Linked DNA regions of Homo sapiens: region 2 is linked to region 1. Evidence: fine-mapped expression QTL. Tissue or cell type: blood mononuclear cells. Region 1 holds a variant in brackets; the other region holds the start of a gene. All regions are shown on one strand. Distances are between the middles of the regions.

What was found. PIP is the estimated chance that this variant, and not a neighbour inherited with it, causes the effect.
Region 2: CWF19L2 starts here. The variant in region 1 is fine-mapped to the expression of CWF19L2 in blood mononuclear cells (TOPMed, PIP above 0.99). The same link has a PIP of 0.9 or more in testis.

What each region holds. Positions count from the first base shown.
Region 1 is chr11:107,267,057-107,272,209 of GRCh38, forward strand. All of the region lies in intron 1 of LOC105369477 (a long non-coding RNA gene), which reads right to left. Among named protein-coding and RNA genes, the nearest start is that of CWF19L2, 190 kb to the right of the region's middle. The variant G/A (reference allele first, on the strand shown) is at 2,295.
Region 2 is chr11:107,455,635-107,460,787 of GRCh38, forward strand. It overlaps CWF19L2 (CWF19 like cell cycle control factor 2), which reads right to left and starts at 2,191. Exons shown (of 18, transcript NM_152434.3): 1 at 2,078-2,191; 2 at 32-142. The coding sequence starts at 2,182. RefSeq lists an enhancer at 1,970-2,475.

The sequences.
Region 1 (5,153 bases):
ATAAAATAAACAAAGCTCATAAATATCTATTTTATTTGCACCTATGTCTCCCACTGTGATCAGCCATAACCGGATAGTAAATCCAACTGACAGGCAAAAAAAAAAAAAAACCATAAAAAATATTGAAGTAAAACGCTCATCTTTGTGTTGTTTTTTCTAGTCATATATTCAACATAGCTCTTCAGCCAAAGACTCCTTAAGGCAGATTTCTCTGACGCTTGTCAGTACTGCTTCTTTGATTGAGTGGTAATTAGTTCAACTTACAAATTGCAGTTATTTTACTAATGAATCTCAAATGGAATGAAACCAATCAGAAATTATTTACTGGGCATGACAATATGCAAAACAAATAATAAATATTAACTCATTTGTTAATCTATAGGATTACAATTATTACATATAAATATGTGTAATATGTGTGCATATGAATTTGATAATTGTTTTAATTGTATATAATTTATTAATAATTTTAATCATTACCAAAAAAAGTATGACAGGTTCTTACCCTTAAGAAGGTTAGCATCTGTTCCAAAAAAAGTCCTGTCTTTTTTTTTTGAGATGGAGTTTCACTCTTGTTGTCCAGGCTGGAGTACAATGGCTCGATCTCAGCTCACTGCAACCTCCACCTCCCAGGTTCAAGTGATTCTTCTGCCTCAGCCTCCCAAGTAGCTGGGATTACAGGCACCTGCCACCATGCTCAGCTAGTTTTTTTTGTACTTTTAGTAGAGATGGAGTTTCACTATTTGGGACAGGCTGGTCTCGAACACCTGACCTCAGGTGATCCACCTGCCTTGGCCTCCCAAAGTGCTGGGATTACAGGAGTGAGCCACTGTGCCCGGCCTAAAATGCCCATTTTTAATTGGCTACTTCTCACAAGACAAGGCAAATGGGTTGCCTGAGAAATAAAGATTTGTGTTTGAGTATTTATGACAAAAAGTCCATTTGGGAGCCAGGCTAATTCATAAGATATGTGAATGCACACTTTTTTTTTTTTTTTTTTTTTTGAGACGGAGTTTCGCTCTTGTTGCCCAGGCTGGAGTGCAATGGCATGATCTTGGCTCACCGCAACCTCAGCCTCCCAAGTAGCTGGTATTCCCAAGCAATTCTCCTGCCTCAGCCTCCCAAGTAGCTGGGATTACAGGCATGCACCACCACGCCTGGCTAATTTTGTATTTTTAGTAGAGACAGGGTTTCTCCATGTTGAGGCTAGTCTCGAACTCCTGACCTCAGGTGATCCGCCCACCTCGGCCTCCCAAAGTGCTGGGATTACAGGCATGAGCCACCACGCCCAGCCGTGAATGTACTCTTTAGCTTAATCTTTTCTTTTTTATTTTATTTTTTTTTTGAGACAGGGTTTCTCTCTTGTTGCCCAGGCTGGAGTGCAGTGACGTGATCTCAGCTCACTGCAACCTCCGCCTCCCCGGTTCAAGTGATTCTCCTGCCTCAGCCTTTCAAGTAGCTGGGATTACAGGCACGCACCACCACACCCAGCTAATTTTGTATTTTTAGTAGAGATGGGGTTTCACCATGTTGGTCAGGCTGGTCTCAAACTCCTGACCTCAGGTGATCCACCCGCCTTGGCCTCCCAAAGTGCTGGCATTACAGGCATAAGCCATCACGTCCAGCCTAGCTTAATCTTTTCTAAGATCAATACCATCTTTCTGGTGAACTTTGTCTCCAAGCACTGCAAAGCACTGCATCTAATTCAAAGATTCTATGTCTTTGGTGAAGAAGGCCAGCATTGTTGACCTAAGTCTGTAGTATCTGAGTTAGGAACAAGACCTAGTTTCCTCACGCCTGGATGTGAGGTTTATCTTTACATGAGAGCAAGGGACGTTTATGTAATCCTCATTAGTGCGGATGGCTGTTCTGACTCCAACAGCCAGTGCATCATTGCAAGAACAGTTGCTTTAATCTCTAAAGAAAACACCAAATAAAATGCATTTTTTTAAATCAAGGAAATAAGGTTCCGTCAATGCATATTGTCCAAGTGACAAAGGATTTCAGACAGCTACGTAATTAGCCTCTAATAGCAATATACATGAGAATGCAATTTACTTTTCATCATTCTTGTTCGGGTCATGAATTGAAATCACAGTAGGAGCACAAGGCTGTCAGGGATAAAGCAAAGGAAGAAAACAGGACTTGGCTGCTGGGAATATTCACACCCAGCCAAGAAAACATGCCAAATGAGGCTTAAAATGAACTTTTCCTGTGTGCATTTCACAAGTTCAGACCAAGAGGAAAAACAATTCTTCCCCTCCCCTACCCCCACTTTAATACTTTAACCATTG[G/A]GTGAAATATACCATAGTCACATGTATACTGTCTGATTGTGATCCTATACCCTGCACTAGGGGATCTGTCAAATATTCAGTGGACAAGTAGAAGAGAACTGAATTGGGAATCTGAAGACCAGAGACTTAGTTTTTGTTCTGTTACTGACCAGTGGTCGACCTTGGGAAAATTACAACCTCTCGGAGCTTCAGTTTTATCATCTGTTAAATGAAGATAATACGTGACCTGCCTATCTCATCCAGCTATTATAAATCATGTTTTCTCTTCATAGTCAAGCCTCTAGAAAAATTGAGTAGTCACAATCTTGACTTCTTGACCTTTCATTTACTCCCCAACCCAAAACTGACCCTCCACTGAAATGCTAAGACCACTGCTGTCAAATCTAACAAATTCTCAAATGCTTTTCAACCTTTCAATTAATCTCAGATTCTTTTGACAGTGTTAAATGTCACTGTTTTAAAACTTCCACCGCGATTGACTTTCATAACAGCATCCTCTCCATTCTCCTCTTTAATAATAGTGTTCTCCATGGCTTTGTCCTTGGCCTTTATTTTTTTTCACTATCACCATCTCTTCCATTATCTCATCCAGGCTATGGTTTCAACTACTTACCGTGAGTTGATGCTCCTATTTATCTACAGGATCACCCCTCTCCTGAGGTCCATTCTGCTCTTGGAAATATCCTCCAGAACTCCTTAGAGCTCTGAAAATTCAAAAACTCTAAAACCAATTCATTTGGTTCATCCCTCCTGACCACACTTCAAACCACTTCTCTTCCTGTGTTCCCTTCACCCATCCAAAATCTGGGACTCAACCTTGACCTGTTTTCAAAATTCTATCTCCAAAATATTTCTCAAATGTGTCTCTTACCTACTATTGCCACTATCTTGGTCCAGATCTTTTTCATCTCTTGACAGCATTGCAAATGCCTATAAACTAACCTCCCTTCTCTAATGTCAGGTCCTTCTGTGGCATCCTCCACATGGGTGTCAATGTGGGCTTTCTAAGCAACAATTTATCTCTCTTCCCTACCTTTAGATCTTTAATGATTCCCACTACACACAGATAAAATCCTAACTTTTGAATATAAAACAGATGTCCCTTTATGTACTGGGTCCTTCCCACCTTGCCAGTATCAGTTCTTGGATCTCCTTCATTGTCACCTTATTTACAGCCACCCCCAAATCCTTGTCATCTCCATTTGCTATATGAAAACTTGGTGATTTTGCACTGGGTTGCTCCTCTCTGGAATGTTTTCCCTTCTTTCCTGCTGATTGAAAAGATTATTCATCCATCAGGACTCAGCTCCCATGTATCCTTTCTTATTAAACAGCCCCTGACCTTCCTCCTGCTCCCATCTTCCTTAGGTAATTTAATTTCCTTCACAATAGCTTGTGCACACCTTTATTCTAACATGTCACCCCAGACTGCAGTTATCTCATTATCTGACCTTTTCTGAGGGTAGGAAAATCAAGTCTTGCCTGTATTTGTAATATAACGTGCATCACAACAAGGCTTCAGTAATTTCTAGATCTGACCCCTGCCATTTGCTTCAAATGATCAAGCATTCACCTAATCTCCCGGGTTTATTCAACCTATTATCTCCCTCCTAGATCCTCATCTCTCTGTCTAGCCTTCTTGAACCAATAATCCAATTGGATAATCTGCCCAGGTTTGATGTAGGTTAGTCCAAGGCAGCTGGCTGTGAATTCTCCTATTCAGCTCCATGTTCTGAGAGGGGGTTATGTCAGCTGGTCCCAGGTTCCTAGGAGGGCAGCCCAGGTACAGCACCATGAGCACCCATCTGTCAGGTGTGAGAGACACGAGAGAGAGACAGAGAGACTGGGAAAATTGGACTCATTATCTCATTTTCTAATAGCAACATTTTAGAAAATAACTATGTATTAAGAGGACAGGTACTCTACTGAAAAGCATCATTGCACTGCTGGAAGAATAGGAAACATTTATTGAATTGAAATAGCTGTAAGGAAAAAATAGCAAGATATGATTTAAGAAAAGAAATGAACAAAACTGCTCTCATCCTGCATTTCTGTTTTGTCTATTGTGATACAATTGAAGAAATGGGGATATTTGAAGTCGCATCAAACGCTCATCTATAATTCAGCTTTGCTAGAATGGAGCTGAAATGCACACGAAGGCAAGGGTCTAATTAAAACGCCAGACTATTTATTGTCTATTCTTAGCTTTGAAAGGCGATGAACGCTGTTACGGCATTGTGTAGACTATTGTGTTTAATGTGAAAGTCCAAAGGCCAAAAATTTAGATAGCTAACCAGGAAATGGAATGGAATAAATTATAAGAACACATTCACTGTATGCTTCCAGTCAACTTAAGGTTCAAGAGTCTCCAAACAAATATGCTGAAATGAAATGTGTAAATTTAAAACCATTGCATTTTCATTGTTAGAAACACAAACATAGGAGATTCTTTAGACTTTGTCCCTTAATAATAATATAGAATTAAGCATAAATCAGGTTTGTCATGAACTCAAAGGGAATTTATCCTTTGAGTTCATGACAAACCTGATTTATGCTTAATATAGTAATTACATCTAGATTATTGTCCTTCTGGATTACAGCTTTGAAGACTGCTGGAAAATGAAAATACTGACCAGTGATTTGCATCATAAGAAAAGGGTGGGTGTGACCATTTTCATTTTCAAATGAGAAGATCCTGAGATAATACAAGTTCTCTACAGATTCCACGTTGAAGGCTGTTAACAGGACTTACTTTTCTGTCCTCTAGAATTAGGAATTGTGTTCGTTCCTTACAACAGGGCCTCCAACTTCTTTTATATATAGCACAGAGAGCACCTGGTGTCTAGAGTCACAAGGATC
Region 2 (5,153 bases), 190 kb after region 1:
CCTTACATCACGTAAACCTGTTAGTATTCACCTGTGAGAACTGTTCAATTCTCTCATTCACATCAGGTAGCATCCATGTATCCTCACCCCGAAGTCGCTTAAGTTCTTTACGCCTTTCTTCTTTTTCAAAATTGGCTTTAGCCTACAACCAAAGAAAAAAAAAAGACAAACTGGCAATTGACCCAACTGGGTTTCACAAAAAAAGGAAAACAAAAACCTCTGTCATTTTTATACAAAAATATCCACTCATGAATGAATGTCTATTCCTTGCCAGGGATTTGCTTCTCCAGTGTAAAAAAATAAAAAAATAAATAAATAAACAAAACAAAGCAAAAATCTCTCCTTCTGCATTTCCAATCTCCAGTGATTTGAGTTACCAATCAGAGAGAATCCAGGGACTGAGTCCAGGCCCTCCCATCTCTCTAAGCTCCCTAGCTCAATATGACTTGGAATCCCTTTTCCCTTCACCATTCCCATGGCTACTGCCTTAAGACTTTTGCAACAGTTAGACCTCCACGCCTTCAATATGCAATGCCTGTAGCCCCAATACCCAGCCCCAAAAATGCCTCAGGAAGAATCATCTCTGTATAAAGAAAGGATCATATTGGTAATTTTTATCCATTCTTCAATGATAGTCAAACAAAGCAAGTTTTTCCTAGGAAATCGTTCCTGCCCTCTTTCTTTCCCTGTAACTCCAAAGCTCAGTTTGGTCCTTTTCAAATTCTATGCATATCTCTACTATAAGATTTATCTCAACTTACGAAACTTACTCCCTCCAAAAACTGCTGGAAATACCAAAGAGAAAAGAATGAATAATATATATATACCCACACACACACATTACATATGTTGAAATTACGAAACAATACCAACATTTCACCTACCCAAGACTAATCGCCCACTCTTCCCCTTTAAAACCTGGCTGTAGTCATTTTCTTTTTTTTTTTAATCAAATATAAAAATAATTTATTAAAGGTTTATATCAGAGAACTGCTGAAGCAACAAGAACTAGAAGAGTTAATATTCCAGAAAAGGGAAAATCATGGAGAGGTAGTCCAACATTCTGCAGCTAGCTTTTCCCTGGGTGCATATAATAATTCTTGGTGTAGGCAAGAAGATGAATACAATGGTTATATACCAAACAGAAAAATCGATATCAGAGAAAAGAGCAGGGCTTATGATGGACTCCAAAGAACAGGGTGAGAAAATTGGAGATTAAAGGAGAATGGGGCTGCTTCACCCTCAAATTATTTGCCAAATTTTGAAACTATGTCATTTTCCCTTTAGAGTCTCCTCTCCCTCTTCTCTGCTGGCTCCTTCTCATTTGCATTTAAACTTGTTTAAAACTCTTCCAACTTAAATAAAAACAAAAACCCTCACTGAATTCTCTGTTGCTCTCCAACTGCAACTTTTCTCTTTCATTGCCACACTTCTTACATATTGAATAGATTGTCAGATAATTCAGAAGCTTACTTTCTCCATTCTTTGTATGTTACCTCTATGTATCTGAAGTTTAGTGAGAAATACAATGTTTCGCGATCTTTTGTGACAGGCTAAATATACTGAGATTGGTGTTAACTTTTGTTTGGATTGGTAAGAGCTTACAGTAAGTCTGGAATTGATACCAATAGAGACAGGAGGAGGAAATGTCAAACTGAGTCTATTCAAGTGTGACTTGAATGTGTTTCCGAAAAAGGAAAATCTCATTTCAGATACAGCAGTAGCAATGACTGAGGCTGCGAGACATGCTGGCAGAGTCCTTACAAGCCGCAGGGGACCTACAAAGTGTGCAGTCCGAGTGATAGAAATGTAAAGAATGGGTAACTTAAAAGGTAAAGAAACTTGGAGAAAAAGCGACAGATCTGCCTGAAAAGAGAATTAGCAACTGGCACCTGCCAGAACATCTAAAAAATCGGTAGCTACAAAAGGGTTTACCGGCATTGCAAAGGGAGAACTCACCCAAATTAAGGTGAGATTCAGTACTGACGAGGTAAGGGAAGGGGTGAGTGGGCTAGCTTACGGGAACCCTCAACTCCCACAACAATAAATAACTACAAAAGCCCCAAAACAGAGGTACCTGGCGCAACACCTCGGCCCTGGCATTCCGGGTCTGTTCTTTCCGCTCTTCGATACTCTTCGCACTTTCAAATCTACCACTAGCAGCCGCCATACTTGTTGCCATCGTAAAGCTAAGAAGCCGCAAGAAAATTCTAGTTTACGACGGTCGTAATTTAACAAACAAACCGGGACTTCCGGACCCGAGGAAGGAGGAGCACGGCTCCACCAACAGGGCATGCGCACATCTGAGGTCGCTTAGGGCTCGGATTACCGCAGCCCAGATTTTAAAGACCCGAAGGGTGTTGGAGGGTTTAATTCTTTCAGGTGTTGGGTGCGATTGTGAGCAGGATTAATACCCGTATATATTTATTATGCACTTTTTACTATATTAACAGCTTTCTCACCAATTTCGTCTTAAAATCACCGGAGTAAGTTACAAGCTCTTGGAAGTTAAGTTGGTACCTCTCAAAAGTTTTCTGCGGAAGTACCCTTTGTCGCCAGAGCATCATTTCCCTGTGCTGGAGGAATGGGATAAAGGGAGGCTGCCAGAAAGGTAGTGGCAGCTGGCAGGAAGGACAGAATTGCCTTGAAGATTCAGTGTTTTGTTTTGGTGGATTTTACTTAATATATGAAACACTCATGTGAATTTTGCATTGCACTTCACAATTTACCCGTGCTTAACTTGTTAGAAGTTTACATTATATTTTTTCCTCTGACCCCATATTATTTACTCATACTTATCCATCCAAGCATTTTTCATTACAATGGACAGTTACTTATTTATTTCTGCGGAGATTTCTTTGTTTTGTTTTACGCATGTATCGCCCAAACATAAAACTTTTAAGTTCAGAAGAATAAGACATTCTAAGGTGATGAAGTGCTTTGAGAACATAAGACACTAAGCTTACATTTACAAGAAGAAGAAGGCTGGGGAATTAATTATAAACGATACCTTAAAGACGCTAAAAATAAGTAACATAAGCCAGGTTGAGGTAAATACTCTTTCTCTTCAGGTTTCATAAAATTTAATGTGTGTTTGCAAGAAGCTTTCCAAGAGTTTTTACATTCACTACCATTCTATGAGTCTGAATCTTGAACACACAATGCCTACTTGTTTGATATGCAATAGAAAGTATTCATTTTATTTTAAAATGTAATTTACTAATCGACCTTGTAATATTTAATCAACTGACTACATTGACTGATATTTGTCATAACTAGCATCAACGTCTTTTCAGATTCTCTTGGAATTCAGAAAAACATCCATTTCACTGTTTTGCATCAATTCAATAAAAATAAACTGTGATTATATTAGAAACGTGTGTGTTTTAATCAGTTCAGGCTGCTATAACAAAATATTATAGAATGGATGGCTTATAAATAACAAACAAGTATGTCTTACAGTTCTGGAGGCTGGATAAAATCAAGGTGTTGGGCTATTTGCTGTCTAGTGAAGGTGTGTCCTGGTTCCTAGAGGGCAGTATTTTTGCTGTGTCTCATATGGCGGAAAGGGAGAGGGATCTCTCTAGAACTTCTTTTATAGGAATTCATGAGGGTGCTGCTCTCATGACCTAATCACCTCCCAGAGTCCCTACCTCCATATACCAGCACATTGGGGATTAGATTTCAACATAAGAATTTTGGGGAAACAAACATTCGGTCTAGAGCAATGTGCAAAGTTATATGAAGAAAACTTTAAAATCTTGCATAAGCTCCCCAAAAAGACTAGAACGAATGGAGAGGTATACTATGTGCTTAAAGAAGAAAACATCATAAAAAATCATTTCTCAATTAATTTGTAAATACCATGCAATACAAATAAAACTGCCCAAAAAAAAGTTGGGGTTAGAGAGGGGAACTAGATATGTTAAAATAGAAAAAAGAAAAGAAAAGAAAAGAAAGAAAAAGCAGGTTATTTTGGCTAGGTTTGCATTTGGCCACACCTAATGCGAATCCAGTCACATGGCTTAATCAAATAAAGGATAACGTAACAAGGAGCCTAAAAGTAACTGGTCCAGGCTTGGTGCAATTGCTGAAGGAGCCAAATAGTTTATCCTTTTTCGCTTTGTTGCAGTCTGTGACTTTAGTATTTGTAGTCACAAGCAGGGTATCATATTCTTTCACATCTGTTCACGGCATCTGATAAACAAGAATAAAGAGAAAGGACAAAGGGTAAACGTTGTTAGCTAAGCTGGCCTCATTTTTTATTAGAAAAATGATGGCTTTTCCTAAAGCCTAGTTCAGTTTCTTTCATTTAAATCCTATGATCCAGAAATAGGTCAGATGATCACAATTAACTACAAAAGTTTCATGAAGATTGCAGGATAGTTGTGTTATAGAATGTCACTCAACTTGGGTTTGTCGGAGGTTCTTTTGTGATTAAATTCAAATTTGGCCTCTTAAGCAGGACGATCACAGAAGTGAGGCGGTCTTACTGCATCCTGTTGGGTAGCGCATGATTTCCATTTGTTCCATTACAGGTGATGTTAATTCTGATCATTTAAATAAACTGGCATCTGCAGAGCTTCTCTGCTGTAAAGTACCTCTTTTCCTTCTATAATAAGTATTTTGTGAAGTGGTTCTTTGAAACTATGTAGATCATGTACCAAATTTTCAAGTTATTTATTTTTATATAATACAGATTCATAATTTCTCAGTGGATTCCTGTTTTTGTTCAGTGGGATAAAAATTCGTTATCAGTATTTATTTTGATCCTCAAATTGGTCCAGGTTAGGCCAGTGAGAGCCCTTTCAAGCTGGTTCCTGTGTCCTTTAGACATGTACCCACATTCTTTATATATATATATATATATATATATATATATATATATATATATATATATATATATATACTTTAAGTTCTGGGGTACATGTACAGAATGTGCAGGTTTGTTACATAGGTATACACGTGGTATGGAGGTATGCTGCACCCATCAACCCGTCATCTACATTAGGTATTTCTCCTAATGCTATCCCTCCCCCAGCCCCTCACCCCCCAACAGGCCCTGGTGTGTGATGTTCCCTCTCTGTGTCCATGTGTTCTCATTGTTCAACTCCCACTTATGAGTACATGCGGTGTTTGGTTTTCTGTTCTTG